Homo sapiens: one gene and its partner. The protein of the gene in region 1 interacts with the protein of each later gene in a pairwise test. Each region holds a gene or a part of one and is shown in the gene's direction. Other genes may lie near its edges.

Region 1 (15,836 bases):
AGTGCAGTTACTTTTGTAACGAGGAAAATATTTTGTCTGGTTGCCCTGACTTCAGTTATGCTACTGAAACAGTTATTGTGTCTGCAATTGGTGGGTTCTTGAACTCACTGACTTCAAGAATGAAAACGTGGACCCTCACGGTGAGTGTTACAGTTCTTAAAGATGGTGTGTCGGGAGTTTGTTCCTTCTGATGTTCGGACGTGTTTGGAGTTTCTTCCTTCTGGTGGGTTCGTGATCTCCCTGGCTTCAGGAGTGAAGCTGCAGACCTTGGCGGTGAGTGTTACAGCTCTCAAGGCGGTGCGTCTGGAGTTGTTCATTCCTCCCAGTGGGTTCGTGGTCTTGCTGGCCTCAAGAGTGAAGCTGCAGACCTTCGCCATGAGTGTCACAGCTCACAAAGACAGTGCGGACCCAAACAGTTAGCACCAGCAAGAGTTACTGCAGAGAGCAAAACAACTAAGCTGGAGACCTGAGCGACTTGCCGCAGCTGGCTCTTGGCAGCCTGCTTTTATTCTCTTATCTGGCCCCACCCACATCCTGCTGAGATTGGTCCATTTTACAGAGAGCTGATTGGTCCGTTTTGACAGGGTGCAGATTGGTGCATTTACAATCCCTGAGCTAGACACAAAAGTTCTCCAAGTCCCCCACTAGATTAGCCAGACACAGAGCACTGATTGATGCATTTACAAAGCCTGAGCTAGATACAGACTGCTGATTGGTGCATTCACAAACCTTGAGCTAGACACAGGGTGCTGATTGGTGCATTTACAATCCTCCAGCTAGACATAAAAGTTCTCCAAGTCCCACCTCCCCCCACCAACTCAGGAGGTCAGCCAGCTTCGCCTGGTGGATCCCGTGCCAGGGCAGCGGGCGGAGCTGTTCAACCAGTCCAGCGCTGCGTGCCTGCGGGCTCCTCAGCCCTTGGGCGGTAGATGGGACCGGGTGCTGCGGAGCAGGGGGCGGCACTCGTTGGGGAGGCTAGGGCTGCGCAGGAGCCCATGGCGGGGTGGGGGAAGGCTCGGGCATGGTGGGCTGCAGGTCCTGAGCCCTGTCCTGCAGGGAAGCAGCTGCGGCCCTGTGAGGATCCGAGTGCAGTGCCGGTGGGCCGGTACTGCTGGGGGACCCGGCCCACCCTCTGCAGCTGCTGGCCCAGGTGCTAAGCCGCTCACTGCCCGGGGCCAGTGTTTCCGGTCTGCCGCTCCAAGTGCAGGGCCCACAGATCCCATGCCCTCCTGGAACTCACGCTGGCCTGCGACCGCCACGCGCAGCCCCGGTTCCAGCCTGCTCCTCTCCCTCCACACCTCCCTGCAAGCAGAGGGAGCCGGCTCTAGCCTTGGCCAGCCCAGAGAGGGGCTCCCACAGTGCAGCGGCAGGCTGAAGGGCTCCTCAAGCACTGCCGAGGCCGAGGAGGTGCTGACAGCCAGCCCTCTGTGAGGGCTGCCAGTAGGTCGTCACCTCTCATTATGACTTTTGTTAATTCAGATGTTTAGATCAGTTCAGATGTTATGTTGGGAAGCATTTTACAACAATCACATATTTTTCTCTTTGCATTTCTTCTTGAAATACTTAGAACTGTAGTTTATAATGAATATAAACACTGGAAAATGCCACAACATTGTTGGGTAGTATTCTAATAACATAACATTCAGACCTTCTAGCAAGGTTAATAGAACTACTCAGCATCACTTAAACAAATTGCCAGTTTGAGGACTTATTTTGCTTCTAATTTCTTAGAACATGACTCATAGAATTTTATTTATTATGCATATCATGTCATCAATATTTATTTTACTTGCAAGAATGACTCATTGTTACCAGAAGATGGGGCTGTGAACACCATATGCAACATGGCCACCATCATGAGCCAGACTGATTAGATCTTCACTACTTCTTTCCTGCCTGCTCCTTTTTCTGCTCACTTTAGACTCCATTTGTCAGTGTTTCCTGCCATTGCTTTTCACTTGTTAGCGGGTTTGTTTGAATCAGTGTATGTTGACTGCTAAACTTCAATTCCTGCAGAACTGTAATACTTTCTTTTGACTTCCTGATTTCTTGGCTGATTTTTCTTGGGATTCAAAGAAACATAAACAGTTAAGCTTTGAACAACTCAGCAATAAGGGGATCGACCCCTAAGCAGTCAACTACTGTTGACTGCAAGCCATGCCAAGAACACAAACAGTTGAGTAACACATATTTTGTATATGTATTATGTACTGTCTTCTTGAAATAAAGTAAGCTAGAGAAAAGAAAATGTCATTAAGAAAACCATAAGGAAAATACATTTATAGTAATTATTATTATTGTACTTATTTACCAATACTGTAAGTTTATTTCTTTTGCTTACAAGATGAATCCCTGCCTGAAATGGCAGCAACCACAGCTGCAGACCTCAATCTACAGTACTTATTAAGCAATTAAACTTTTCCTTGTAATGACTATTCTCTGCTTCTTGGGAGCATTTACAGCATCGCTAGTGGCACTTTGTATAGGTACCACGGTGTTATTCAAGGTTGACGGCAGTGCACTAAACACGATGAAAAATACAGGAACCATGAGTGATCACTTTTTACTATGATACACAATTTACTGGAGAGACAACTGCTCTTGTGGAGATGATTAACATCACGAAGTGTTTTAAGTGGATACATTCAAAACACTTGGGCTCACTGCAATAGCAATGAGAGGTGCCATGAAATTAGTACAGCACTACAGTATGTATGAGTTATATGCAGTTATGATTTAATGCTGCATCGTTATGTTTGTTTCAATTTCTCTCAACTGTTAATGGTGCCACGGTCTGTGTTTATGTGTGTATGTTTTGATAAATTTTAACTTTTTATAATACATTTGTGGGCCGGGAGCAGTGGCTCACACCTATAATCCAGCACGAGGCAGGTGGATCACCTGAGGTCAGGAGTTCAAGACCAGCCTGACCAACATGGTGAAACCCCATCTCTACTAAAAATACAAAAATTAGCTGTGCATGGTGGCGGGCACCTGTAATCCCAGCTACTCGGGAGGCTGAGGCAGGAGAATCACTTGAACCTGGGAGGCAGAGGTTGCAGTGAGCCAAGATCGCTTCATTGCACTCCAGCCTGGGCAACAAGAGTGAGGCTCTGTCTCAAAAAAAAAGTTATATTTGTGTATATTTTAGGGTATTAAATGATAAAAGATGAGTATCTACATATTTTATGCATTATGACATACTTTTCTTAATTTTTCAATATTTCTAGGCTATACAGTTTATCTGTGTTTTTTAAATTGTTGCAAATATCCAAAACTTTTTCCAATATATGTAGAAAAAAACCCGTGTATAAATGTATGCACAGAGTTCAAACTTGTGTTGTTCCAGGGTCAACTGTACTATCTTTCCCAAAAAATGGGTGAAGGGAAACACTAATGGTAAAATATCTGTCTCCTCAGTGTCACCAGATCCTGAGAGTTTTGGGATTTCGATAGACTCTTCAAGAAATAAAAGCTTCTCAAGTGTCAATGTCCTTCAGGCAGAGACCTCCAGGAACACATCTGTAGTTAACCAAGTTGGAATTATTTCTGGTTGCAGTGAGGAAGAACACACACCTTGAGGAAGAATGGGCTGCCTCGGTAAAAGGGTGTTAAGAAAGAACCTATTATACGATTTGGGCTTTGTGGTGATTTGGGAGAGCATCTAAGGAAGCGGGAATATGCTCTCAATTGGATGCAGTCAGAAAGCTGGGGGAAGTCTATGATTGTGTCAGCAGGGAAACGTATCTGAGTCACACGACTTCAAAATAGTAATACCAGTGGTGAATCCCTTGGGGTCTGCAGCACCCTCAATTCTGGCCTCCTCCGAATAAAGTATTCAACTGATGGACATAGGCAGAAGGAGAGACCCAGGCAAGTTTTAGAGCAGCAGTAAAAGTTTATTAAAAAGCTTTAGAGCAGGAATAAAAAGAAGGAAAGTATGCTTGGAAGAAAGCCAAACAGGCAACTTGAAAGGCAAGTACACAGCTTGATATTTTGACTCAGGGTTTGTTTTTGTTTGTCTTGAGACAGATTCTTGCTCTGTTGCCTAGGCTGGAGTGTAGTAGCGCGATCTTGGCTTGCACCCTCCACCTCCCAGGTTCAAGCAATTCTTGTGCCTCAGCCTCCTGAGTAGTTAATTCTGTTTTTTTTGTTTTTTTTGTTTTGTTTTGTTTTGTTTTGTATTTTTAGTAGAGACAGGGTTTCACCATGTTGGCCAGGCTGGTCTCAAACTCCTGACCTCAGATGATCCGCCCGTCTTGGCCCTGCAAAGTGCTGGGATTACAGGCATGAGCCACTGTGTGCCTGGCCTTGGGGTTTTATATATTGGCTTACTTCTGCGGTCTTGCATTACTTCTCCCCGATTCTTCCCTTGGGGTGGGCTGTCCGCATGCACATGCTTGAGCCCACTCGCCCCACTCCTGAGATCTTATCGGGAAGCTGCTGATCACTAGTTTCAGGTGTTTTCTATCAGGAGCCTGCTGTTCCCTGGTGCCAGCTGTGATCAATTATTATTTTAGTGAGACAGTTAACAACCGCTTGACCATCACCTGATGGTTGCCCGACATTCCTGATATGTGCGTGTGGTGCGGAGCCCTCTCCTGCCCTGCTCATTCCTGACTAGCTACCTACTGTAACAAGATTGAGATCTTGGGCATCTCAGTCTTATCTATAGAGAAGTGGCTAGCATGAGAATAAAGCTGCAATTTTAAAGTAGTAGTAGTTATTTGTTTGGGCCAAGAAAAAGGTGTTGTATTTTGTAGTCAGTAAAGTGAGCTTTTTGTCTGTGCTTAGAAAAGCTTAATGAAGTGGTTTGCTTTGTATCATTGTATCATGATTTCAGAGTGACCTTGTCTGCAGTTGCTATTTTGTGAGATTATTTCTCTTCAATAGGAGAATAACAAGGCCTAGCTGTGAGTGTCAGGCCAGCTTCTCAATGTTAAGGACTCTTTCCTTTTTCTTTCTTACATTTTAGTTTTATAATACATTTTTCATTCAAATATACATACAGAAAAGTACATAAATTATAAATGAATTTTCATAAAGTGAACACATCAGTGTACTAATGTTCGGCTTAAGAAACAACATATCCAACTTCCAGAAGTCCCCTTCATGCACCCTTCAGATCACTAACCCTGAGGTTACCCACTATCCTGAGTCTAACACCACAGATTAGTTTTGCCTGATTTTGAATTTTTTATGACTAGAAACATGTAATATGCACTTTTTTGAGTATAGGCTTATACTCAACATTATGTTTGAGATTCATTCATGTTATTCTGTGTCATTGTAATTAGTTCATTCTCACTGATGAATAGTATTCCATCATGTAAGCACACCAGTTTATCTCCATTCTAGTGTTGATGGACATTCAGGAGCTTCCAGTTTGGAGCAATTAGGAATTAGTTCATAGTGCTGCTATGAATGTTCTCGTACATGTTTTTGGTGAATGCCATGTATATATTCCCGCTGGGGAGGAGTCGAATTGTTGTATATTTATGTTCAGCTTTAGTAGATAGTGCCAAACATTTTTCCACAGTGATTGTACCAATTTATGCTCACACCAGCAGTGTAAAAGAATTCTGGTTGCTCTCTTTCCCATGTTATGTAAACTCTTCCAGAATACAGAAAAAGATGAAAACTTCTAAATGCATTCTACAAGGATTCTATTACCTTGATACAAAATTGAGAAAGTATAGAAAAGGAAAACTATAGGTTAATGACATCTTTAAATGGAACTGTAAAGATAATGAAAATATTAGCAAACTGAACCTACAAATTTTTTAAAAAAACCAAACCAGGACCAGAATGGGTTTATTCCAAGAACAGAAGTAATGCTCAAAACTAGGAGGTTTTGAAATAATGCATACTAATTTATCAATGTTAGCTATTATATAATTCATTAAATCCCAAATTTATTTTTGTTAATATAATTCATTAAAATAGAAACTGTTAATATAATTCCTTTCGAAGACTAGAGGAGAAAAGCAGATAATCTCCAAAGATGCCAAAAAAGCCGTTGATAATATTCAATTCTCACTTTAATAAAAATTCTAGAAACAAAGATATAAAAGTCCATGTTATATCTCCTTCAGTCTACTTGTCGGGTTCATCATCCATTATTACCCCACATGAAAGCTAACTTCTTTTTCCTTGCTCCTCCATTTGCTAGCTGTGTAGCCTTTGACAAGTTACTTAACCACTCTGTGCTGATTTCCTATGTGTAGTAAAATAAGAGTACCTACCTTATGTTGTAATGATCAAGTCCTCAATACATTATTCTTAATCACTTTTTAATTGCAAGAATTTGGTCATTAAACATCCCTTTGACTGGATTGCGAGCACCTTGACAGCAGGGACTAACAGTGGAACTTTCTGGAGACTTAAGGAATGTCTGTTGAATCCTGATGCAAGCTTTCTCACCTTCCTGTGTTCTCTCATTGCTTCCTCATCCTGTCCAGCCGTCCGTCCACCCGTCGCAAGCCTAACCCCAGTCAATAACCACTGTTTACAACACTTTCTTTGTACCCTTCTTATAGTGCTTATTACATTGTTTTGAATACTAAATGAATATATAGTGCGTCGTTGTGTTTAACATTTAGGACATAACCACTCATAATGTTACAGTTAAAAAAATAGTTTTGTGCATTCCTCTAGGGCCGAACTGTGCCGTACTTCTGGTTTCACTGTACAGTGTCTACAAAGCACAGTGTCAAAGACAGAGCTCGGGATGAGAACTGGGCTAAGGCGCGCCCCGAACTCCCCAAACCCTATTATTCAGGGCCCGGAGAGGTGCGGGCTCCGAAGGTGTGGAGAGCGAAACACGCAGAGCAGTGATTCCACTCATCAGTCACACAGTAAGACGGGACAGCCCCATCTCGCAGTTTTTCATTATTCAACACAGAGCCCAACGCGCACGCAACAGATCCGCGCGCAGGGCTGTTTGGAGGCGCTTGGGGCGCACAATCTGGGGCAGGCGGAACCTTAGTCCTCAGCCTCGCGTTTCCCGCGACTCCGCTCTCACCGCTACACTACCACACAAACGGCCTCCTTCCCCCACCCCCGGGGGCCCATCCCGGTGGCGGGCTCCGGAGCTCGGGACTGCTAATTTCAGCGAAACGATTAAAAGACGCCCCTACAGCTGACGGCACTTTCTCTCCTCCGGCAGGGAAGGACGTCCAGCGTAGCGTCGCCCGCGCTTCCCCGCCGGCGCAGAGCAGGCCTCACAGAATCGCACGCCGCTGGCACGCACGCCGCCCCGCCCCCACGGCCCAGCGCCAGCCGCGCCCCGCGCTCGCACGCATCCCGGCCTCACTGCCCCTCGACTCCTGTTCCGTTGGAGGGGCCTGAGGCGAGCCTGAGCGCGCTGTTGGCCGGAGGGAAGCCGGAGGAGACCGGGTCGACTGGGCAGAGCGGCAGAGGGTCGAGGAGCCTGCTCTGCACGCCCAGGGAGTAGAAGTGGGCAGGGAGCAGGGTCACGTGAGGGAGCGCGCCGCGACTGAGCTTGGGTCCGACTGGAGCTCAGGCTCGCGACCCAGACTGGTGGGCCAGGCCTCCAAGCCGGCCTTACACCCAATCCAAGGAGGACAGACCGGACACAGAGGGACGGAGCGAGCAAGGAGACATGGCTTCATCATTCCTGCCCGCGGGGGCCATCACCGGCGACAGCGGTGGAGAGCTGAGCTCAGGGGACGACTCCGGGGAGGTGGAGTTCCCCCATAGCCCTGAGATCGAGGAGACCAGTTGCCTGGCCGAGCTGTTTGAGAAGGCTGCCGCGCACCTGCAAGGCCTGATTCAGGTGGCCAGCAGGGAGCAGCTCTTGTACCTGTATGCCAGGTACAAACAGGTAAAGTAGCAGGGAGAGGGTGGATGGGGGAGAAAGACACGGAGCCTTCTTCCTCAACAACTGATAGCAAGCATGTATGGTTAATAGCTAGGTGTAATGAAGCTTGTGTATGTGTATTTTGTTTTGTTTTTTTTTTTTTGACCATCTGCTGGGGATGAGCATCATCCTGAACGTGGAAAAGATGTTTGCTTTCTTAGGAGTGATGTTTATTTAGCTGGACACTGGACATTGTTTTTGTGTTTTTTTCTCTGACTTATTCAGTGATCTTGCATTTTACCAGCCCAAGAACCTTTACAAAATGAGGATAAAATAAGATATATCATTCATTTACTCTTTCCCAGAGGGCCACATGGAAGTAAATACGGTAAAGTTAATAAAACTATATAGAGATCCAAAAAGATAATAGGATTGTAATAATGTGATGCAGGGCTGGGCGTGGTTGCTCACGGCTGTAATCCCAGCACTTTGGGAGGCCGAGGCGGGAGGATCACCTGAGGTCGGGAGTTGGAGACCAGCCTGACCAACATGGAGAAACCCCGTCTCTACTAAGTTAGCCGAGCGTGGTGGCGCATGCCTGTAATCCCAGCTACTCGGGAGGCTGAGGAGGCGGAGGTTGCGGTGAGCGAAGATTGTGCGCCATTGCACTCCAGCCTGGGCAACAAGAGCGAAGAAACTCCACCTCAAATAATAATAATAATAATAATGTGATGCAATGCAAAATGCAGTATTACAACTTTTATTGTGATTTTTATAAAATCCTAAATATCTTTGATTTATGTTTTCGTTGAGTATGTCTTCCTTTCTGTTTGATACAATCTAAAAATTTTAGAGCTATGAACACCAGAGGAAATAATGCCCTTCTTTTACAGTAAAGGAAACTGAAGGCCATAGAGAGTAGGCACCTTTCCTAGGGTCATACAAATACATCAGTCAGAACTGGATTGTAGCTCCTGACTCAGTCTAAGGCTGTGAACTTTACCTGGAAATAGGGAGGTGTATAGACACGTTTAATTTATAATTCAGGGTGACATTGGTTGGTACCAGAAGGAAAATAATTGCTTTATCATAAGCAACATATATTTGTTCAGCAGCTTTTATGTGCAAGACACTTGGGTATAATGCCTACAGAGAATGCAGAGAAGCAAAAACATCATGACACTTTGCAGAGAAGCAAAAACATCATGACACTCACTTTTTTTTTTTTTTTTTTTTTTTACAGAGGGTCTGGGTTTCACCACATTTCCCAGGCTGGTCTTGAACTCCTGAGCTCAGACGATCCACCTGCCCAAAGTGCTGGGATTACAGGCATGAGCCACTGCACCTGGCTGACACTTTTTTTTTTTTTTTTTTGAGATGGAGTTTTGCTCCTGTTGCCCAGGCTGGAGTGCAGTGGCTGGATCTTAGCTCACTGCAACCTCTACCTCCCCGGTTCAAGCGATTGTCCTGTCCCAGCCTCCCGAGTAGCTGGGATTACAGGTGCCTGCCGCCATGCCCAACTAATTTCTTGTATTTTTAGAAGAGACGGGGTTTCATCATGTTCGCCAGGCTGGTCTTGAACTCCTGACCTTAGGTGATCTGCCTGCCTTGGCCTCCCAAAGTGCTGGGATTACAGGTGTGAGCCACCACGCCCCGCCAACATTTGCTTTAAGAGACTTAAAGTACTTGAGGAGTCTAGGTTTGAACATACCTGAAAAATTGCTGACAAGAGTTAAATAACAGTTCAGGAAAATTACAGCTCTTTGAAACACTAGAGGAAAGGAAATTCTGGATAATAGCCTATTTTGTTTTATTAAAAATGTGTAAACTTTTTTTCTTTTTGCCTCTTGACATAGTTACGTATTTTCCCCTGTATTTGTTAAAGGAAAAATAAGTTGGGGGAGAGGTCCTGCTGTGTTCTTTTTTTTTTTTTTTTAACTAAAAAAGTTTTTTTAGAGACAGGATCTTGTTTCGTTGCTCAGGCTGGAGGGCAGTTACACACTCATAGCTCACTGCAGCCTTGAAGCTTCTGGCTTCAAGCGATCCTCCTGCTTACGCCTCCTGAAGTACTGTTATTACAGACATGATCCCGCATGCCCAGCCCCACTGTGTTCTTAAACTGGATGTACTGAGTAAAAATGAACCTTGTTTTGAAGGTTGATGGTCATTATTATGAATATCAGTTAATGTGACCTGAGAGAGAAAGCTGTAGGAACAAATGGTATAAATTATAGTGTCGAATGAAAATTACCTCCAAATTGGCCTTGGAATTAGCTTTCTTGGAAAAGTTGTAGATATCTGTTTTCTCTTTGGTCATTTGTTATACTTTGTCCTAATAACATTAGAGTGAAACTTTTGATTATTTAACAAATATTTACTGAGAATCATATTTTAGGACCTGTAATATGTCTGATGATTCTCTGGGCAGTATGAGACTAATTTTCCCCAAATTCCCTAGAAAATATTATTTTTCGTTCTAGGACATATCTTTGTTTATTGATATTGGTGTCATTATTAAAATACTATATTTCTAAGTCATCAGTGAACTGTAGTCACCTATCGACTTGGGAACCATTTTGTCTCAGGTATACTCACTTCATCCAGATAATATGAAGGAGGGATGTCCCTCATCCTTTCAAGAACTTGACTTTATGGTGTTTAGAGATATTCTGTATCTGAAAATAAAATTCTGCATTGTTAGAGAATAATATGCTTACTTATATATGACACTGGGCCGCAGTTTTCATCAATCTCCTAAATATTTTTGACAAAATTGTGAGATAGTGTTAAGAATAGCATCTTTGATAGAATAATAAAGTTGGAAGTCCAATATCATTTCTGCATATTGGATCAAAATTTATAAAATAACGTTTTGTATTCAGAATAGCACCCTATTTTGTAGGCTGGATGAGGTTGTTGGCAGGAAGATAATAAAAATAAGCTGAAATATGAACCTTATTTTCTCAGGGAGAACTCTAAACTTAGCATCATAGCTTTATTAGTCTCAGATAAGCCTATGGCTTCAGAATAATCTTTTAATAAAGTTTTAACAAAATCGAATGAACAATTTTTTGGTCCTTCTTTACATCAGCCTACACTCTCCCTCCTAAAGATAGCTAATTGACAGCTGTGAAAACTGGAGAGTAATGAAAATTTGTGAATTCCTGTTGACTTCATAAGATACTGTTTAATAATACTTTTTTTTTTTTTTTTGAGACAGTTTTGCTCTGTCATCCAGGCTGGAATGCAGTGGCGTAATCTGGGCTCACTACAACCTCCGCCTCCTAGGTTCAAGCTATTCTCTTGCCTCAGCTTCCCGAGTAGCTGTGATTACAGGTGTCTGCCACCGCACCTGATTGATTTTTGTATTTTTAGTAGAGATGGGGTTTCACCATGTTGGCCATGGTTGACCAGGCTGGTCTCCTGATCTCAGGTGATCCACCTGCCTTGGCCTCCCAAAGTGCTGGGATTACAGGCATGAGCCACCGTGCCTTAATACTACTTTATTAAATATTAACCCTTGAGTCAAGTCTTACATTTTGTGTGATGAGATGGGAAGTACACACAAAGTACTTCTGCTGCATACTGAATTATGTTAACTATTTTGAGGAAAAGCACTTGTGTAATTTCTGAGTCGCAAAATGAACTATATTCTTTTCCAATTTTACTTAACAGAACAACTCACAGATAATTATACCTACTCAAATTTGGGTATTTGGCAGGTAGTTTCTTAAAAATGAACGAAATAAGCCTGTCACTTCAAGGAAAACAACTCAAAGTGTTTGTTGCCAGTAATAACATTTGAACCTTCAAGTGAAAATGAGAAATTTGGAAAATCTATATCTGCCACCATGAGCTTGACAGCTTCCCAGTACTTAAAAACTTTTTTTGATGAGATAAGTGGTGACAGTCATGAATGTGAACGTTTGCTGTTATATCATGAAATGTGTCAACATTTGAAAAGTCTGTGTAACTCAGTAAACCATATTTTCTAAATATTTCATGGAATGATGTTACAAATTATGTGTTGGTAAAAGATGCCTTTCAAAGTGCAAGTCAGACCAATGGATTTCAGTGTTAACAGTATGAAAAATTCATTGATATGAGTTCAGATTCCTCGTTGCAACTGACCTTAAACTACCATCTGTTAGGTTTTGGCATAGTATCAAAGAAGAATATCTACAATTATCTGAAAATGCTGCTAAAATACTTCTCTCTCTTTCTAACAACATATCTGCGTGAAGCCGAATTTTCTTCATATACTTCAACCAAAACAACATATTGCAGTAGACTGGATGCAGCATTAGATATGCAAATGCAACTGGCTTCTACTAAGCGAGACATTAAAAAAATTAAAAAATGTAAAACAGTGCTACTTTTCTCACTAATTTTTTTTAGAATATGTAGTTATTTTGCATGAAATGTTATTTATGTTAACATCTAATGGGTTTATTATTTTTAAATGAATTAATACACATTTTTTAAATGTCCCAGTTTTAATTTCTAATGTGGTAAATATCGATAGATATAACCCATATAAATGATGGCTCTTTAAGATCCTTAATTTCTGAGAGTATAAAGGGATTACAAGACTAAAAAAATTGAAAACTGCTGCCCTAAGTTCCTTTTTCATGGTCAGAGGTGGCTTACCATCACCACATGTATATCCTATCCAGAGCAAAGGGAAAGGGGAAGACAAGCTCCTTTTCTTTTTAAGGAAGGTATTTGTATCACTTTTCCACACATCCAGTCCCCAGAACCTAGGCAGAAGTTGGATGGCCATGTATAATGTTTAGCCGGATGATCATGTGTCCAGCTGAGACTTCTGTTACTATAGGAGAAATGGAGAACTATTGGCATTTGTTTCTGCCACTGGATAGTGTCTGGATAAAAAACAAAAATAGTTATAATTGCTATTTTTATGTCTTAAAGTTTGTATAATTTATCTCATTTATTATTTCTAACAGTCTGGTAGTTCATGTGATTTTAGAGAGTCCAGAATTGAAGCCCAGACTCTATTTAGCATTTAAGACAGAATGATGTAGTAAAGGGATATTGAGCTTTGGAGTCAAACACTCTTTGATTTAAATCCGGACTACTAATTCAGGATATACTAATGTGTGAACTGAGACAACCCTCCTGAGCTTCTCTCTTCATTTATAAAATGAGTTTGTGATGGCATACCTAGCAGGATTTTTTTTTTGGCCCATTTGAGATAAAATATGTGAAGTGTTTGGTCTATCGTGATTGTTCAAGAAATGTGGCTCCTTCTTTTTCACCCTTTCTTCTCTCTATTCCATCATAACAGGGCTGCTTCTATGTAAGTATACATTTTAATAACAGCATAGGGCCATGCAATTAATCGCTAAGCAAATGATAGAGGTGGTAATTGTTATGAATTCAGAGGTAGATGAGATCATTGTAGACTGAAAGGGTTCTTAGAATCTGAAATTTGAGTAGAACTGGAAGGTCGTGCAGCATCTTGAAAAGCTGAGGAAAGAAGAAAAGGCATTTCAGGTGAGTGGAGTAACAAGCAAAACCCTGAACTAGGAATACCTAAGGCAGTCAGTAGATCATTCTGGTTAGATGAAGGCATCAGTTAGAGTAATGGGAAACAGTGGGAAAATCCCTGAGAAGTAGATAGGTTCTGTGGATGAGTTAAGAACAGTTACAGGCTCTATTCTAATAGAAAGATGAGACTTTACACAAAACTTTCTAAACACATGGTAGAAAAAGTGAAAAGTACCATAAAAGATATATAGAGTAAATGCTCTAAGAGTTCATAAGGAAGGAAGATGACTTCTGGCAGTGGGAATCAGGGCCTGTATAGTGAATTCTGCACTTGTGTGAATTTCATTTATGCTTATTCTTAATGAAAATTTCACTGTGCAGTTTAACTACAAATGTCGGTTGAGGATTAAAATTAAGTATTGACCTCAAACAAAAGATGATAAGACTATTGTAGAAAAACGGAATTGTATTTTTGAGAACCCATGAAATTTTTTGCATGGCTTTTGGCATCCAAATTTATATTGATGAATTTCATAATAGGGTACTTTAAAAGTAGTACACTGTTTTCCCTGGAATTTTGGAGAGTTAAAATGCTAATAGCGTTATGAGAATCAGCATGAAGAAACAGTGTTATGAATTCTGATAAATTATGAATTCTAAACCTTATTAATTTCATATTAAAAATTCTTTTACTTTATACATGGTAATAAAGAGTATTTAATCTATATTGATAACTTGTCTTATATATAGTCTACTAACTTCGAAGTGCAACCGTTTATCACAGTTTTTCTGTATTACAGTATTAGATAATAGTTGTTTTATGCAGTAAGCCAAAGTAGGCTGTATGTAATGTTTGATTCTGTTTGATTGTTTTTGTTTGCTTTGGCAAAGAATGTTAAATTTTGCTATTCCATATAGATGCAAATATTTTCCAACCTATGGTTACTGAATATACATAATACATTTGAAAAGGAAAAGTTTCCCAGACATTTCTTTGAAAAATAAGTTCTTGATTTTCCTTCCCTCATTTAGGTCAAAGTTGGAAATTGTAATACTCCTAAACCAAGCTTCTTTGATTTTGAAGGAAAGCAAAAATGGTAAGAAATTCCTGGAATCTTTAATGAGGTTGTTGGAAATGGCTTAGGTGTTTAGGAATTAGAAAGCAGTGAGCTGATTAAAGAATTATTTTTATATTAATCTCTCTCTCTGCTGTAGATTGTACTAATGACAGGCAATTGGGAGAGATTAAAGAAATCTACTTTTAGCTAAGTCTCCTGAAGGATTCTTATGCTAGCATGTTGGAATATAAGTGGTTCACAACAGACATACATGCCTTACATTTTAATACCATGAGAGCTATTGCTTGAGATTTTCCTTTCCTGTCATTCAACCCCTAATGGATCACCACTTCTCCCCTCTGGAGGGATTTTTGGAAGAAGGCCAGAATGATGGGAAGGGCAGAAGAGCAGGATAAATCCCCATTTTTCACCCATCTTCCTTGTCCCAGTTTTATCTCCCTGTCTCTTGCTACTTACTCTTGTGTTCCTTGCCCCACCCATGCCACAGTAAATAACTGCTTATAGTACTCTTGGGAAGAAGGGAAAAATTCAGTGAAAAGCCAAAACCAGATACTAACTTCTCTTTTTCTCTGAATATATAAAAAAAAGAGTATACTTTTGCAAACTTTTTTAACTTATAATTCAGAAGTTCCCCCTTGTCATTTATGAGACCTTATCTTCTCTTACCTTGTCTAAGTGAAAGAAGAGAAATTGCATACAACTGGGAATCTTAGTTATAGAAGGGAAGGCTTTGGAGCATCAGCCCTGGAATTAAGGTTAGAAGGTAGAGTTAGAAAAGAAAAAAGATAAAATATGGTTATAGAGAGAGGAAGTGATAAAATATGGGTTCTTACTTTACATTCTAGAGCAGTCCCACATAAAATCTGGTCCCCTGGATACATTTCCTGCCTGCCAACTGTTTGTTACCCAACTGTTAGGAGATACAGAGCTTGAACCCAGATATAAATCACGTATGTCACTAACCACGCTGTTTAGTTCAGCTGATTTTTTTTTGTATAGGACAGTCTCAGTGAAGGAAGCAGTGCATTGATTATATTCTTGCACAAGTTTTTTGGTTGATGATAACCAGCCAACATATTATTACTGTTCTAAAGAATACCTGATGTTAACGTTGACAGTGAGTTTTTTGTTATAATTTATGAAATTTTATACCTTTATTTTTTTCTGTGCTTTGCCTGTTTCTCCATTGTTTTTAGCAATTAAAAAATTTAGATTTTATAGCCACCATAATAATAGTTTATGCAAGAACATCAACGAATGATTAAATATTAGATGATAAAATATTGGGGAACTGTTAGAGAAAAACTATTGAGGAAAATTTTTGTTAAAATGCTAGGTGAAAAACTATTGGGGAGCAAAACCGTGGGTTACAGGCTGACCCACCATTTACTTTTTAATTATGAGAGAGAAACCTGACAGTTACT
Region 2 (15,971 bases), on another chromosome or scaffold:
AGTTTTTAATTAACACCTACCCTGTCTCCCTTCCCTTTCCTTAAACTGTATCTCTATTCTCTACTTCCTTTAAGGTAGGAATCTTGCCTATCTACTACTACAATACCCAGTGCCCTGCACAGTAGGGATTCAGTATATTGAGGAATTAAGTAATTTAACATCTTTCTCAGATCACCTGAGTCCCTGAAAGCTTTCTTCCTGACTTCAACAGTCAAGGAGACCTACTGCCATCACCCAATAAAAAGGATTCCATCTTGTGTCCAAAAGGGCCATTTGGTACAAACACCCTGCCAGTATTTGAATCTCTTCCACATTATCTCTGCCATGTATACATGTACATGTCCCATGTTGGGGAACTCACTGCCACTCAAGACAGTTTTATTTATTTTTTTTTTTGAGACAGAGTCTGGCTCTGTTGCCTAGGCTGGAGTACAATGGCGTGATCTCAGCTCACTGCAACCTCCGCCTCCCGGGTTCAAGTGATTCTCCTGCCTCAGCTTCCCTAGTAGCTGGGATTACAGGTGCCTGCCACCATGCCAGGCTAATTTTTACATTTTTAGTAGAGATGGGGTTTCACCATGCTGGCCATGCTGGTCTCGAACTCCCAACCTCAGGCGATCTGCCTGCCTCAGCCTCCCAAAGTGCTGGGATTACAGGTGTGAGCCACCACACCTGGCTGACAGTTGTTATTTTTTCAAGTCCAGTCTTGGCAGTTAGAAAGTTCTTTCTTAGGCAGTATCTCTCCTAGTTTTAAACCGTGGGGCCATACAGAACAAATCTAATTCTATTTTATAGAGCCAGATTTAATGGCTCAATTCCCTTCCTTGATCAAACAATGTATAGCTAACCTAATCCTGTGGTTCTCACCCTTTTCCCTACTCCTGACACATCCAAGGGATACCCAGACTCCCACCAGTAATCATGGCTGGCCAAGACAGGGATAGGAACAGGCCTGGCCTGTCCCCCCAAATTATCTGGATCTTCCTGGGACACAGTGTTAGGAAACCGTCCAGATGACCCTACTTTTCTCAGATACTGCCTTACAGTATTATAACTATTCATGTACAAGTGAGAGCCTTGTCTTCCAAGGAGGTATCCTTGTGGTCCGATTTGCCAAAAGCAGCTGCACCTCTGCCCCAGGAAGATCCCATAGGAAAGGGTGAAGGGCTGCTACAGGGCCTTCAACCCAGGCACCTCCTCCATAATGAAACTTGGGCTTTGGAGTTTCCATGTGATGCCATCAAGGGCTTTTTCAGCTCAAATATATGTCTTTCATGATTCAGGATGGCAATAAGAAACTTTGAGCTGGCTGTAGCTACTTACACAATCTCATTTTATCCTGAGAGTGGCCTGCATCTCAGTCACCTCTGTGTCCTTAGCATTTAGCATGATGCCTGGAATACAGTTCTGCTTCTCATTTTGTTTGATGAACAACCCTGAGTCCATTAGAGATGACTCCTTTGGCTCCTGGTTTTAAATTTATTTTCTGTACGTTTATTTATTTATTTATTTATTTATTTATTTTTGAGACAGGGTCTCACTCTGTTACCCAGGTTAGTGCAGTGGCACGATCTTGGCTCACTGTGACCTCTGCCTCCCAGGCTCAAGTGATCCTCCCATCTCAGCCTCCCACTGAATAGCTGGAACCACAGGCACACACTCCTCACTTTCTAAGCTCCAGTCCTAAGTCATATCATTCTCATTGCCATACCTCAAAAGCACCCAAGTCTCAGGCACCTGGACTTTCTACCTAGAAGGTCCACCCCAGTTTGTTTACTGTCCTGATGAACATTCAGCTAAGCCACCATGTCCCCCCAGGATCTCCTGCCTCTGGACAGCCTGTGCTCCCCACTTTCTTAGGCACTGTGCTAGAACTGTTCTACCCCTGACTCTCCAGTTCCTGCCATAGAGGCTGACAAGTCATCAGTGTTCCCGAGGTTGGAATAAATGAATCACAATCTATCTCATGGCTTCGTAGGTCCACCAGAAGAAAGGTTATATGTGGCCGGGCACAGTGGCTCACACCTGTACTCCCAGCACTTTGGGAGGCCAAGGCAGGGGATCACCTGAGGTCAGGAGTTTGAGACTAGCCTGGCCAACATGGTGAAACCCCTTCTCTACTAAAAATACAAAAAATTAGCCAGGCATGGTGGCTCGCACCTGTAATCCCAGCTACTCAGGAGGCTGAGGCAGGAGAATCGCTTGAACTCAGGAGGCAGAGGTTGCAGTGAGGAGAGATTGCACCATTGCACTCCAGCCTAGGCAAAAAGAGCAAAGCTCCGTCTCAAAAAAAAAAAAAAAAGAAGGTTATCTCTGACATGCTGGAAGTACAGCAAAGGCCTTGATCTGTGATGGACATCATGAAGAAAACTTTTCTTTGGTTATCATACCAGTAATGCTGACTTCCTGGGAAGGGAAATACTAATTAAGTGGGTATTAATTCTGTCCTAGACACTTTTAGGGCTCTCTATGTAAGTCTTATTTTACAGATAATGACATCAAAGCTCAGAGGTTAAGTGACTTGCCTAAGGTCATTCATTAAGTCAGAGGCAGAGCCAGGATTTAGAACCCAGGGAGTCACACTCTGCCTGCACTCTTTTTTATATATATTTTTTTTTTCCCAAGACAGAGTCTTGCTCTGTCGCCCAGGTTGGAGTGCAATGGTGCGATCTCGGCTCACTGCAACCTCCACTTCCCGGGTTCAAGCAATTCTCCCTGCCTCAGCCTCCCGAGTAGCTGGGATTACAGGCGTCCACCACTGTGCCCAGCTAAATTTTGTATTTTTAGTAGAGACGGGGTTTCACCACGTTGGCCAGGCTGGTCTCAAACTCCTGACCTCAGGTGATCCGCCTGCCTTGGCCTCCCAAAGTGCTGGGATTATAGGCATGAGCCACCGTGCCTGGCCCTTTTTCCTTTGAGACAGAGCCTCGCTCTGTCACCCAGGCTGGAGTGCGGTGGCGTGATCTCCGCTCACTGCAAGCTCCGCCTCCCTGGTTTACACCGTTCTCCTGCCTCAGCCTACCAAGTAGCTGGGACTACAGACGCCCGCCACCACGTCTGGCTAATTTTTTGTATTTTCAGTAGAGACAGGGTTTCACCATGTTAGCCAGGATGGTCTCGATCCCCTGACCTCATGATCTGCCCGCCTTGGCCTCCCAAAGTACTGGGATTACAGGCGTGAGCCACTGCGCCTGGCCCTTTTTTCCTATTTATATAGAGACGGGGCCTTGCCATGTTGTCCGGGCTGGAGTGCAGTGGCATGATCCTGGGTTCCAGCGATCCTCCCACCTCAGCCTCCCAAGTAGCTAGAACCATAGGTGCATGCCACAATGCCACGCTAATTTTTGTATTTTTTTTAGAGACAGGGTCCTCTATGTTGCCCAGGCAGGTCTCACACTCCTGGGCTCAAGTGATCCACCCATCTCAGCCTCCCAAAGTGTTGGGATTACAGGCATGAGCCACCTCACCCAGCTATATTTCTGCATAACTCCATAAGGCAGAACCGGGCCAGCTTTTCACAAACCAAAATTGTTTCAAAGTGGAAAGCTCTCGGCTGGGCGCAGTGGCTCATGCCTGTAATCCCAGCACTTTGGGAGGCCGAGGCAGGCGGATTGCCTGAGCTCAGGAGTTGGAGACCAGCCTGGGCAACATGGTGAAACCCCGTCTCTACTAAAATACAAAAAATTAGCTGGGCATGGCGGTGTGTGCCTGTAATCCCAGCTACTCGGGAGGTTGAGGCAGGAGAACTGCTGGAATCCAGGAGGCAGAGGTTGCAGTGAGCCGAGATAGTGCCACTGCACTCCAGCCTGGGCAACAGAGTGCGACTCCATCTCAAAAAAAAAAAAAAAACAGTAATTCAGGCCAGGTGCAGTGTCTCACACCTGTAATCTCAGCACTTTGGGAGAGCGAGGTGGGCGGATCACCTGAGGTCAGGAGTTCGAGACCAGCCTGGCCAACGTGGTGAAACCCTGTCTCTACTAAAAGTACAAAAATTAGCTGGGCGTGGTGGCAGGCACCTGTAATCCCAGCTACTTGGGAGGCTGAGGCAGGAGAATCGCTTAAACCTGGAAGGCAGAGGTTGCAATGAGTCGAGATTGTGCCACTGCACTCCAACTTGGGTGACAGTGAGATTCCGTCTCAAAAAAAAAAAAAAAAAAAAAAAAGCCTGGGCGTGGTGGCTCACACCTGTAATTCCAGCACTTTGGGAGGCCAAGGCAGGTGGATTACCTGAGGTCAGGAGTTTAAGACCAGCCTGGCCAACGTGGTGAAACCCCATCTCTACTGTAAGTACAAAAATTAGCCAGGCATGGGGGTGCGCACCTGTAGTCCCAGCTACCGGGGAGGCTGAGGTGGCAGGATCACTTGAATCCAGGAGGCAGAGGTTGCAGCAAGCCGAGATTGCGCCATTGCACTCCAGCGTAGGCGACAGAGCGAGACAGTCTCAAAAATAATAATAAATAAAAATAACACACAAAATATCTTTTTATCTTTTATTTTATTATTGTAATCCCAAAGTGCTGGGATTACAGGCATGAGCCACCACGCCCAGCCTACTTTTTATTTTTTTTGAGACAGAGTCCCACTTTGTCACCCAGGCTGGAGTGCAGTGGCAGAATCTTGGCTTACTGCAACCTCCGCCTCCCAGGTTCAAAAGATTCTCGCGTCTCAGCCTCCCAAGTAGCTGGGATTATAGGCGCCCACCACTAAGCCCAGCTAATTTTTTTGTATTTTCAGTAGAGACGGGGTTTCGCCACGTTGGCCAGGCTGGTCTCGAACTCCTGACCTCAGGTGATCCACCCACCTCGGCTTCCCAAAGTGCTGGGATTACTGGCATAAGCCCCAGCGCCTGGCCTGGCTTTATTATTCTTCTTCTTACCTCTGACCCCCCCCTTCCCTGCAGCTGCAAATAGGGCAATCGCGTTGAACAGCAGTCTTAGACCCCGGAGAGTTGAGTGTGGTGACAGCTCTCAGACTGAGTGGGCATCTTTGACTGCCTTCCAAAGTCAAATATAAATGACTGAGGATTATCTGCTGCTTTGGATCATAATTACTTATGCTTATGCCATTGATATAAAAACAGAGTTGAGTTGGCCGGGCGCGGTGGCTCACGCCTGTAATCCCAGCACTTTGGGAGGCCGAGGCGGGCAGATCACGAGGTCAGGAGATCGAGCCCACCCTGGCTAACACGGTGAAACCCCGTCTCTACTAAAAATACAAAAAATTAGCCGGGTGAGGTGGCGGGCACCTGTAGTCCCAGCTACTTGGGAGGCTGAGGTAGGAGAATGGCGTGAACCCGGGAGGCAGAGCTTGCAGTGAGCCAAAATCGCGCCACTGCAATCCAGCCTGGGCGACAGAGCAAGAGAGCGAGACTCCGTCTCAGAAAAAAAAAAGAAAGAAAGAGTTGACTATATTTAGTTCTGTGTTTTATTTGTGTTTTCTTTCCCTGAGTCAGATGGGAACTGTTTCTTCCCGCCCTGCCATTCTTCCCATGTTGAGATCTTTCCCAAAGGCAAAGATCATTTCCCTTTTTGGCCATGGAGCACTCTGATGGTAAGAATTAGTCCTCTCATCACCCACCACACTCAACCCGAATAGGAAATTTCCAAGAATGGGAACCATGTCTTTGGGCACTTAGGCGAGATTACTCAATCAAAAGAGTGAGACTCAGGGACTGAAACATTCAATCAAGGTTAAAAACAGATTAAAATGTGGCAGTTACCTTTTTTCCCCTGATATAGAATACGCACTGGAGTCACAGTTACCTTTTAGTAACTGATTTCCTTGAGTGAATAGTGTATCAGAAAATGGGACTTTTATGGTGGCAAAGAATTCAGAGGGCCTGGGGCACACAGATCTGGATTTGTATACCGATTTGCCACTTAACCAGCTATGTGACTGTGCAATTTACCAACCTCTCAGGGCCACATTTTTTCATCTGTCAAAAAGGTCAATATGGCCAGGTACGGTGGCTCACACCTCTAATCCCAGCACTTTGGGAGGCCGAAATGGGCAGATCACGAGGTCAGGAGTTCGAGACCAGCCTGACCAACATGGTGAAACCCCGTCTCTACTAAAAATACAAAAATTAGCCAGGTGTGGTGGCGTGCGCCTTTAATCCCAGCTACTCAGGAGGCCGAGGCAAGAGAATCGCTTGAACCCAGGAGGCGAAGGTTGCAGTGAGCCGAGATCGCACCACTGCACTCCAGCCTGGGAGTCAGAGAGAGACTCCGTCTCAAAACAAAACAAAACAAAACAAAGGTTGAATAATAATAATAGGACCTATATTGTAGACTTGTTGAGAGGATTAAATGAGATAATGTACGAAATGCCTTACTACAGAGTCTGGCACTTATTAAAGAAAGAGTTGATGTGGGCTGGGTGCCGTGGCTCACGTCTGTAATCCCAGCACTTTGCGGGGTTGGGGTAGGAAGATCCTTAGAGGCCAGGAGTTCGAGACCAGCCTGGGCAACAAGGCGAGACCCTCGTCTCTACAAAAAATATATAAATTATCCGGGTGTGGTGGCTCATGCCTATAGTCCTAGGTACTTGGGAGGCTGAGGTGGGAGGATACCTTGATTGCAGTGAGCTGTGATCTTGAGCCATTGCGCTCCAGCCTGGGCGACAGAAGGCGGCCGTATTTAAAAAAGAAAAAAGAAAGAAAGAAAGAAAAGAAAAGAAAAAAAGGGTCGTTGTGGAAAATTCTTGTGGGGAATTAAAGGGACCACGTGTGCGCGAAAGAGCTTGGCGAAGATAAGTACCTGGAGGCCAAGATGAGGCGGCGAGCCCTGCCTCCCTAGCAGTGTGGTCTCCTGGCTTAGGGTCAGTGCTTCGCACAAAAAAATCCACTGCCTCTCATGAGACCTTGAACTGCCAATGACCGCAGGTTGCCCAGACTCCCGAGTGAGGAAGGCGGCCAGGAGTCAACTAGGCTTCTTGCGGAAAAGCCCACTCTAAGAAGGCCTGGGGCATTCCGGCTCCAGGCAGGTAGCACCCGCGGGCCTCAGGCCCTTTCACTTACCCGGGAAACGTAACGGTCCTTAACGGCAGCCAATAACGGCTCCCAGCGGCCCAGGCACTGGCAAGGGCAGGCTGAAATCAAACCTCGGATTTTGGAACCTCCACGCCTGAAACCCTAAACCAGCATCGAACTACAACTCCCATCATGCCAGGCGGCCGCCCGGTTCCCAAGGGTCGGTCCCACCAACCTTGCGCCCCTTCTTTCCTCAAAGCGTGGCCGAATGCCTAGGCTTCCGGGTATCAGTGGCCCCGCCTCTTAATCCGACCGGAGCCGTCCCTCGTGATTCCTGGGTATTGTAGTCAGTTTCCTGGGAAAGAGTCGCTCCTAGTGGCAGCTCGCTTCGCCAGAAAAACTACAAAACCCAGAATGCAGCGCAAATTCCCCTTGTCCAATAGGAACCCCCCATGTAGTGGGGCGCGGAGCCCTGCTCTCGCAACTCAAGATGGCGGACGAGAGTGAGACAGCAGTGAAGCCGCCGGCACCTCCGCTGCCGCAGATGATGGAAGGGAACGGGAACGGCCATGAGCACTGCAGCGATTGCGAGAATGAGGAGGACAACAGCTACAACCGGGGGTAACGAAATCCTCGGAGTCCAATTCCCGTCCAGCCTCCCACAACCTGGGTCTCTGGGGTGCGGGGAAGTCACCGGGAGCTTAGTCTAGCCCCACCCTCATGTTCTTATTGGCTAAGTCACTAGGATTCTGCCTGGCGATTGGTTATTGCCTTTGTCATTTACCAAGGGTGGGTGCTCTGGATATTAAGGGCCGGAGACGTTCAGTACTTTTATTATATAAAAGTTCTATGCAGTGTTCCACTCGTGTGCTTCAGGCCATTCCTGGGAAAAGAGCATGTTGGACGATGGTTTTCGATGGTACAACACAGGACAGTCTAGTAACAGTACAGTTCAAAGGGAACGTTACTTATAGACGTGTTGTTTGAACAACGTGACTAGCAATAAACGAATCATAAAACATTTCGCAGCAGTTCACCCTCAGTGAGGAAACTCATCAGACTATACAAACTGTATGTATAATTATATTGTAAAATATCACTACCAGAGAATCCCAAAATATAAACTCACCTTATAAACCTATGTAATTAACGGTATGGTAATGCTTTGATTTACATAGTTTCCATTGCTCCAAATAATCCATAAGTATCCTGAACGATATATTAATATAATTAAGTCTTCGAACATCTTTGCCTTGTTACCTTTGCAGAGCAGCCCCAGGCTTCAAGAAATGAGCGATGTTGTTTCTTGGAGAGTATTTGGAATCCTCGGGCTCCATACTGCCTATCCTGTACTTTAGGGTCTTGCCATTAGTTACTATTTGTTCCTAGGGATGAAGAAACACACCAGGCATTTGAATGTTGAATTCTTTTCCCAAATTAGTTTTTACTTCTGTAAGCCACAGCTTATTCATCTTTCTTCACATGGTTAGTGCCTGGCACTGGCACTCACGCTGTCTCTCCCCATCTTCCTGTCTATATTTGTAGATATATTTTTAAACTGAAAGTCGTGAGAGATTTTTGGGTGTATAACTTGCTGAGTCTGAGGTAGTCTGATTTTCGTAGCCAGCTTGTTATTCGCAGTATTGGTGGCAGTGCAGATATAAAGGTATAAAGACCAAGGACTGCGTAGAAGAGATGGTCCCACAAGATTATAGTACATATTTTTATTGTATCCTTTCTATGTTTAGGTATGCTTAGATACACAAATACTTACCATTGTATTATAGTTGCCTGCAGTACTCAGTAACATGCAGCAGCCTATTGCTCCTAGGCTACAAACCTGTATAGCATGTTACTGTAATGTACACCATATAGCCTAGGCATTTAGTAGGCTATACCATCTAGATTTGTGTAAGTACACCCTATAATGTTGGCAAGGCAAAAATCACCTAACCATGCATTTCCCAGCACATATGCCTGACGTTCAGTGAAGCATGACTGTATTTAAGTGGTTTATAATCTGCTTGTGGTAAATCTTAGGTTAAAAGATCTAGCTTTTATGTTCTTCAGCCGGCATTAAAAATCACAGGAAGGGCCGGGCATGGTGGCTCATGCCTGTAATCCCAGTACTTTGGGAGGCAGATCACGAGGTCAGGAGATCGAGACCATCCTGGCTAACACTGTGAAATCCCATCTCTACTAAAAATACAAAAAATTTAGCCGGGCGTGGTGGCGGGCGCCTGTAGTCCCAACTACTCGGGAGGCTAAGGCAGGAGAATGGCGTGAACCCAGGAGGCAGAGCTTGCAGTGAGCTGAGATCACGCCACTGCACTCCAGCCTGGGCGACAGAGCGAGACTCCGACTCAAAAAAAAAAAAAAAAAAAAAAAATCACAGGAAGAAAGTAGAGGAATAGGAAGCTTGCCAAATTTAGTTTTTATAAGACTGTTCTGTTGCTGTAACTCACAACAGATCTAATGTAATAAAAGTCTTCTTTTGAAGTTTGATATTCCTAAAAATGGAAGAGCTGAGAAAGAGGAAGTAGGAACAGGAAGAAGGGAAAGTGAAGCTCTCCTGAGTAGAGATCTGAATCACAGATGAGAGTTGGTGAATGTGAAAGTCATTCCAGAAGTGAAAGTGTGGCATTTTCTTTGCTCTTTTTGTAGTTGCTTTTATTTTTATCTTCTTAACTGTTGTCCTGACCAGTGTCCTTAGGTTTGTGCCCTATAATCTGTGAATCACTTTTCAAAACTGTGTGCCAGAAAGTTATTTTATTGGCCTGGCGTGGTAGCTCACACCTGTAATCCCAGCACTTTGGGAGGCCGAGGCAGGTGGATCACTTGAGGTCAGCAGTTCGAGAACAGCATGGCCAACATGGTGAAACCCCGTCTCCACTAAAAATACAAAATTTAGCTGGGCATGGTGGCGTACGCCTATAGTCCCAGCTACTCCGGAGACTGAGGCAGGAGAATCACTTGAACCTGGGAGGTGGAGGCTGCAGTGAGTTGAGATTGCACCACTGCACTCCAGCCTGGGCAATAGAGCAAAGCCCTGTCTCAGAAAAAAAAGTGGCACACAGTGGCTCATGCCTGTAATCCCATCACTCTGGGAGGCCGAGGCGGGTGGATCACGAGGTCAAGAGATTGAGACCATCCTGGCTAACATGGTGAAACCCTGTCTCTATTAAAAATAGAAAAATTAGCTGGGCATGGTGGTGCATACCTGTAGTCCCAGCTACTCGGGAGGCTGAGGCAGGAGAATCACTCGAACCCGGGAGGCGGAGGTTGCAGTGAGCTGAGATTGCGCCACTGCACACCAGCTTGGCAACGGAGCGAGACTCCATCTCAAAAAAATAAATAAATAAAATTATTTTATTTGTAGTAGAAGTAAGTGATAACCTTAAAAACTTTGACAGTTTGCAGTGGTGTCTCTGTGCATGGTTATGGTCTGGGTGAAAAAATTATGTTTATTAGCGTCCCAAATCTAAAGATCTGTGAAAATGAGTTTGGAGGTAGTAGGTGAAAAACCAAGGGCCTAGTCTGGAGGAGAGAGTCTAATTCTGGCACTAAGAATCTGGGGTAGAGTCAACATTTTTCCATGAACTTTGAGAGGAAATGGTTTTGGGGAGAAGCAGCAATGTGGGAAAATGCAGCACGGCACAGTAGAAAAGCATGGACTTTGGAATAATTTAAATCTGGTCTGAGGCCAGGCGCGGTGGCGCACATCTGTAATCCCAGCACTTTGGGAGGCTGAGGTGGGCAGATCGCTTGTGGTCAGGAGTTTGAGACCAGCCTGGCCAGCATAGTGAAACCTCATCTCTACTAAAAATACAAAAATTAGCTGGGCATGATGGCAGGCGCCTGTAATCCTAGCTACTTAGGAGGCTGAGGCAGGAGAATCACTTGAAAACAGGAGGCAGAGGTTGCACTGAGCTGAGATCTCTCCAGTGCACTCCAGCCTGGGCGACAGAGCAAGCCTCTGATCTCAAAATCTCATCTCAAAGCTTGGCTCTGACACTTAACAGTCCTGTGACCTTGGGAAAGGTACTTAACTCAGAGTTGTAGGGATTAATGAGATAACATCTGGAATGCACTCCTTTTCCTCCCTCCTCCTCTTTCTTCAGATCGTCCCTAACCTCCCAGCTTGCCCCTCTGCTCTTATCACATACTGTATTGTAGCTTTTATCGTAACAATAGTTATAATAACAATAAATATAACTACATGTTTGGTAATTTTTCTTAATGTGTCTGGTACCTGTCTCATCTGACAGTAAGGAGCATGTAAACAGGATTGTGTCTTCGAAATGCCTAGCACTTAGTGGGCATTAATGAGTATTTGCTGTATGAATGAATGGCAGATATTAAAGTGCCTAGCCCAGTATTAGTGGAGTTTCATCTCCCCTCACCAAGTGAGAGGATGTCAGATTTTTCTTACATACACATTTTCTCTCCCCAAATAATTCTCATTGTAAGCCTCACTACAGTTTTTATGAAATACCTACAGAGGCAGGGCATGGTGGCTCACACCTGTAATCCCAGCACTTTGGGAGGCTAAGGCGGGCGGGATCATGAGGTCAGGAGATCGAGACCATCCTGGCTAACACAGTGAAACCCCATCTCTAATAAAAATACAAAAAATTAGCCAGGTGTGGTGGCGCATGCCTGTAGTCCCAGCTACTCGGGAGGCTGAGGCAGGAGAATGGTGTGACCCTGTGAGGCGGAGCTTGCAGTGAGCCGAGATTGCGCCATTGCACTCCAGCCTGGGCGACAGAGCCAGACTCTGTCTCAAAAAAAAAAAAAAAAAAAAAGAAATACCTACAGAAACCAGGAAGCTCCAATTTGCTGTGGAGCTTTCCACTGTTGTGTGCTTTCCACTGTGTTTTGCTTCTTGAAATGTTTTTTGTCTTAATATTATTTAAAATGTTCTCAAAAATCATGTAAAAATTGACAGAGAAGTTTTCCTTTCAATGCTAGAGAGTCTAAAATGTGTAATATATAATAAAGGTTAATGATAGTTCGAGCTAACCCTTATTCTCCTGGGCCTTTTTTTTTTTTTAAAGAGACTGTGTCTCGCTATGTTGCTCAGACTAGTCTCAAACTCCTGGGTTCAAGTGATCCTCCTGCCTTAGCCTCCCAAAGTGCTGGGATTGTAAGCATGAGCCACCACACCCAGCCTCCTGCCCCTTTTTTTCAGGAACTAAAGTCATAGTACTCTATGCTAATAAAATGAGCTAAATTCATGTACTGGATTCTGTTGCCCGGGCTGGAGTGCTGTGGCGCGATCTTGGCTCACTGCAACCTCTGCCTCCCGGGTTCAAGAAATTCTCCTGCCTCAGCCTCCTGAGTAGCTGGGACTACAGGAGCACACTGCCACACCCGGCTAATTTTTCATATTTTAGTAGAGACGGGGTTTCACCGTTGTTGCCCAGGCTGGTCTTGAACTCCTGAGCTCAGGCAATCCACCTGCCTTGGCCTCCGAAAGTGCTAGGATTACAGGTGTGAGCCACCACGCCCGGCCAGTTGTATTAGTTACTTATGTCTCTTTGTATATGAATTTAGTTCTTGACTTTTCTGGTCTTGTGTTTCCTCCGTAATTAAATCAGCATAAACATTTGGTGAATATAAAACTTCATGTGGTTGTGTGTAGTGGCTCATGCCTGTAATCTCAGCACTTTGGGAGGCTGAGGCAGAAAAATCACTTGAGCTCAGGAGTTCGAGACCAGCCTGGGCAACATGGTGAGACCCCATCTCTATAAATAAAAACAAAAAAACCCAAACCCTTCATGTATACATATAGGTATACATGCATACATATGCAGTGTGTATGGGTGCGTCTCTTCAGTTTTTCTATTTAAAAATTTTTTAATTTAATTTTAAAATTATTGTTATTACTTTGGAAACAGGGCCTCGCTCTGTCGTCCAGGCTATAGTACAGTGGTGTGATCATGGCTTACTGCAGCCTTTGACCTGGGCTCAAGCGATCCTCCCACCTCAGCCTCCCAAGTAGCTAGGATTGTAGACATGCACCATCATCCCTGGCTAATTTTCTTTTTAAAAAGTTTCTGTAGAGATGGGGTCTCACTATTTAGCCCAGGCTGGTCTCAAACTGCTGGCCTCAAGTGATGCTGCCACCTTGGCCTCCCAAACTGCTGGGATTGTGGGCATAAGCTCCTGCATCCAGCTGGTTTTGTTTGTTTTTTTACTGCACTCAATTTCCCCCAGTTACGTGCCTAGCGTAATTATCCTGAACAATTGAGAGGAGAGTCAGATAAGATAACCTTTATGCAGCATCCCCCTGTAGTTCGTGATTCATCTATATGGTTTAATTTGATTTTTTTTTTTTTTTAATGAGAGTCTTTCCAAGAAGTATTGCCAAAGAATAAATCTCATCAGTTGGCAGATTTTAATTTGGGGGTAATAAGTGAAGATTGTCTGAGTGTTTTGGAACAAAAAAGAACTTTTAGACTATTGTGTTCTAGGAATCTTTCGGAATTTATTTTGCAGTGTCTTCAGTGTCATTGAGATCCTGGTAAGCACGGGTCAAGAGCCCTCTGACAAGAGGTGTCTCATCTCCATCCTGCTCTCTTACTCCCTGGGACAGGTTAACATGGATTCTTTATAAGTTCTCCTCATTTCCTGGTTGTGAGATACTATCCCTTATGAAAACTTAGGAGGAGAGAAAAGTCTTTCTGAAAATAAATTCCATAAAGCTAGCCTTACTTGTTTTTGTTTTTTTCTTCAGCTTCTCCAAGAGTCGTTCTTTCCCTATTTATTTGATGGCTTATAGCTGCAGCTAGCTCTTGGAAATAAGAAATCTTTTTAGTTCCTTTTTAATTTCTCCCTTCAACTTTTGGTTTTTCAAAACTAGATCAAAGCAGAATGGAAAGAGAAACCTCATCACTGATATCAAATAAGTGTTCTAATTTTGTTTCCCAATTAAATGGCAATTAAAAAGAAACTAATCAAGAGCTGCTTCAAAGAGAAGAGACTGGAAAGCAGAAGAAATGGAAAGTAAATGAGAGCCTATTTCAGGGACTCGCTGCTCATGGCACAGCAGTTTTGCTGATTTTTCACATTGTTCAACTAATATGCTCACGCTAAAATTCCCCAGCTTTACTAAGTTGGCAGTTAACCCTTTCCCTATAGAGCCCATAGATTTATGAGCCATACATTTAGTAACTTCAGGAGGATGCTTCTTTAACTCTTTCTCTTCAGCTTTTTATCTGAAATCTCTACCCTTCAGGCCTCTCTTCCAATTCCTCAAAGAAGATGTCCTTGTGATTGTTACATTTAAGGGACAAAAATATGGTGTTCTCTATTGAGAGCGCCAAAAATACTAAACCGGAATTCCTCCATAGGCTCAGTATTTGCCTCAAAAATGTCCCAGCACTTTGAGAGGCTGAAGTGCGCAGATCACTTGAGGTCAGGAGTTCGAGACCAGCCGGGCCAACATGGCAAAACCCCATCTCTACTAAAAATACAAAAATTAGCTGGGCGTGGTGGCACACACCTGTAGTCCCAGCTACATGGGAGGCTGAGACAAGAGAATCACTTGAACCCGGGAGGCAGAGGTTGCAGTGAGCCCAGATGGCGCCATTGCACTTCAGTCTGGGCGACAGAGAGAGCCTCCATCTCAAAAAAATAAACAGAACAACAACTTTCTAGAGCTGCTCTCTTGAGAGACAACTGAGGAGTCACTATGGTTAAGTGTTTAGTAAATGTTACTATTATTACTACGTAGTGGGCATTGTGCTAAGCCCTTTACTTGGATTATATCCTCCATGATTTCACTTATGAAGACTTTAGCGATTTTTGTTTGTTTGTTTCTTTTTTTGAGTCTCACTCTGTCGCCCAGGCTGGAGTACAGTGGCACGATCTTAGCTCACTACAACCTCTGCCTTACAGGTTCAAGCAATTCTTGTGTCTTAACCTCCCAAATAGCTGGGATCACAGGTGTGCACCACCATTCCCGGCTAATTTCTGTATTTTTAATAGAGACACGGTTTTGCCATGTTGGTCAGGCTGGTCTCGAACTCCTGGCCTCAAGCAGTCCACCTGCCTTGGCCTCCCAAAGTGCTGGGATTATTACAGGCGTGAGCCACCATGCCTGGACTTTAGTTTTTTGTTTTTTTGGGTTTTTTTGAGACAGAGTCTCACTCTGTCGCCCAGGCTGGAGTGCAGTGGCGCGATCTCGGCTCACTGCAACCTCTGCCACCCAGGTTCAAGCGACTCTCCTGCGTCAGCCTCCTAAGTAGCTGGGATTACAGGTGCCTGCCACTGTGCCTAACTAACTTTTGTAGTTTTAGTAGAGACGGGGTTTCACCATCTTGGCCAGGCTGGTCTTGAACTCCTGACCTCGTGATCCATCCTCCTTGTCCTCCCAAAGTGCTGGGATTACAGGCGTGAGCCACCATGCCTGGCCAGACTTTATTTTTTATTATTTATTTATTTATTTATTTATTTATTTATTTTTGAGACAGAGTCTCGCTCTGTTGCCCAGGCTGGAGTGCAGTGGCGTGATCTTGGCTCACCACAACCTCCACCTCCCAGGTTCCAGTGATTCTCCTGCCTCAGCCTCCTGGATAGCTGGGACTACAGGCACATGCCACCACGCCCAGCTGATTTTTGTATTTTTAGTAGAGATGGGGTTTCACCATCTTGGCCAGGCTGGTCTTGGAACTCCTAATCTCGTGATCTGCCCACCTCAGCCTCCCAAAGTGCTGGGATTACAGGCATGAGCCACCACTGCGCCCAGCTAGACTTTAGTTTTTATAGTGAGGCTTGAGATTTGCATCTCCACTGGTCTCTTTGACATCTCAGAGGATCCATTCTGAACTTGCTAGGTTTCTTTCCCCTGCTGAATTGAGTTCTGCATCTTGAGTCTGCAGCAGTGTGAATCCTATCTTTGGCTCCATTTAACAGCCTATGGACGTTCCCAAACTTGGGACCCAGTTTGTCTCTTCATGATAGACAAATATTATTTTCAGAAGTCATTCTAATCGCA

What was found.
Region 2: the proteins of ACBD6 (region 1) and NMT1 interact in binary tests that used the Homo sapiens proteins (3 or more experiments, as listed by UniProt).

The regions. Positions count from the first base shown.
Region 1 is NC_000001.11:180,494,055-180,509,890, reverse strand, and holds the start of ACBD6 (acyl-CoA-binding domain-containing protein 6), read left to right. Parts: upstream 1-7,313; 5' UTR 7,314-7,624; coding exon 7,625-7,846; intron 7,847-14,365; coding exon 14,366-14,430; intron 14,431-15,836. UniProt on the Homo sapiens protein: Binds long-chain acyl-coenzyme A molecules with a strong preference for unsaturated C18:1-CoA, lower affinity for unsaturated C20:4-CoA, and very weak affinity for saturated C16:0-CoA. Does not bind fatty acids. Plays a role in protein N-myristoylation.
Region 2 is NC_000017.11:45,053,870-45,069,840, forward strand, and holds the start of NMT1 (glycylpeptide N-tetradecanoyltransferase 1), read left to right. Parts: upstream 1-7,447; 5' UTR 7,448-7,460; coding exon 7,461-7,591; intron 7,592-15,971.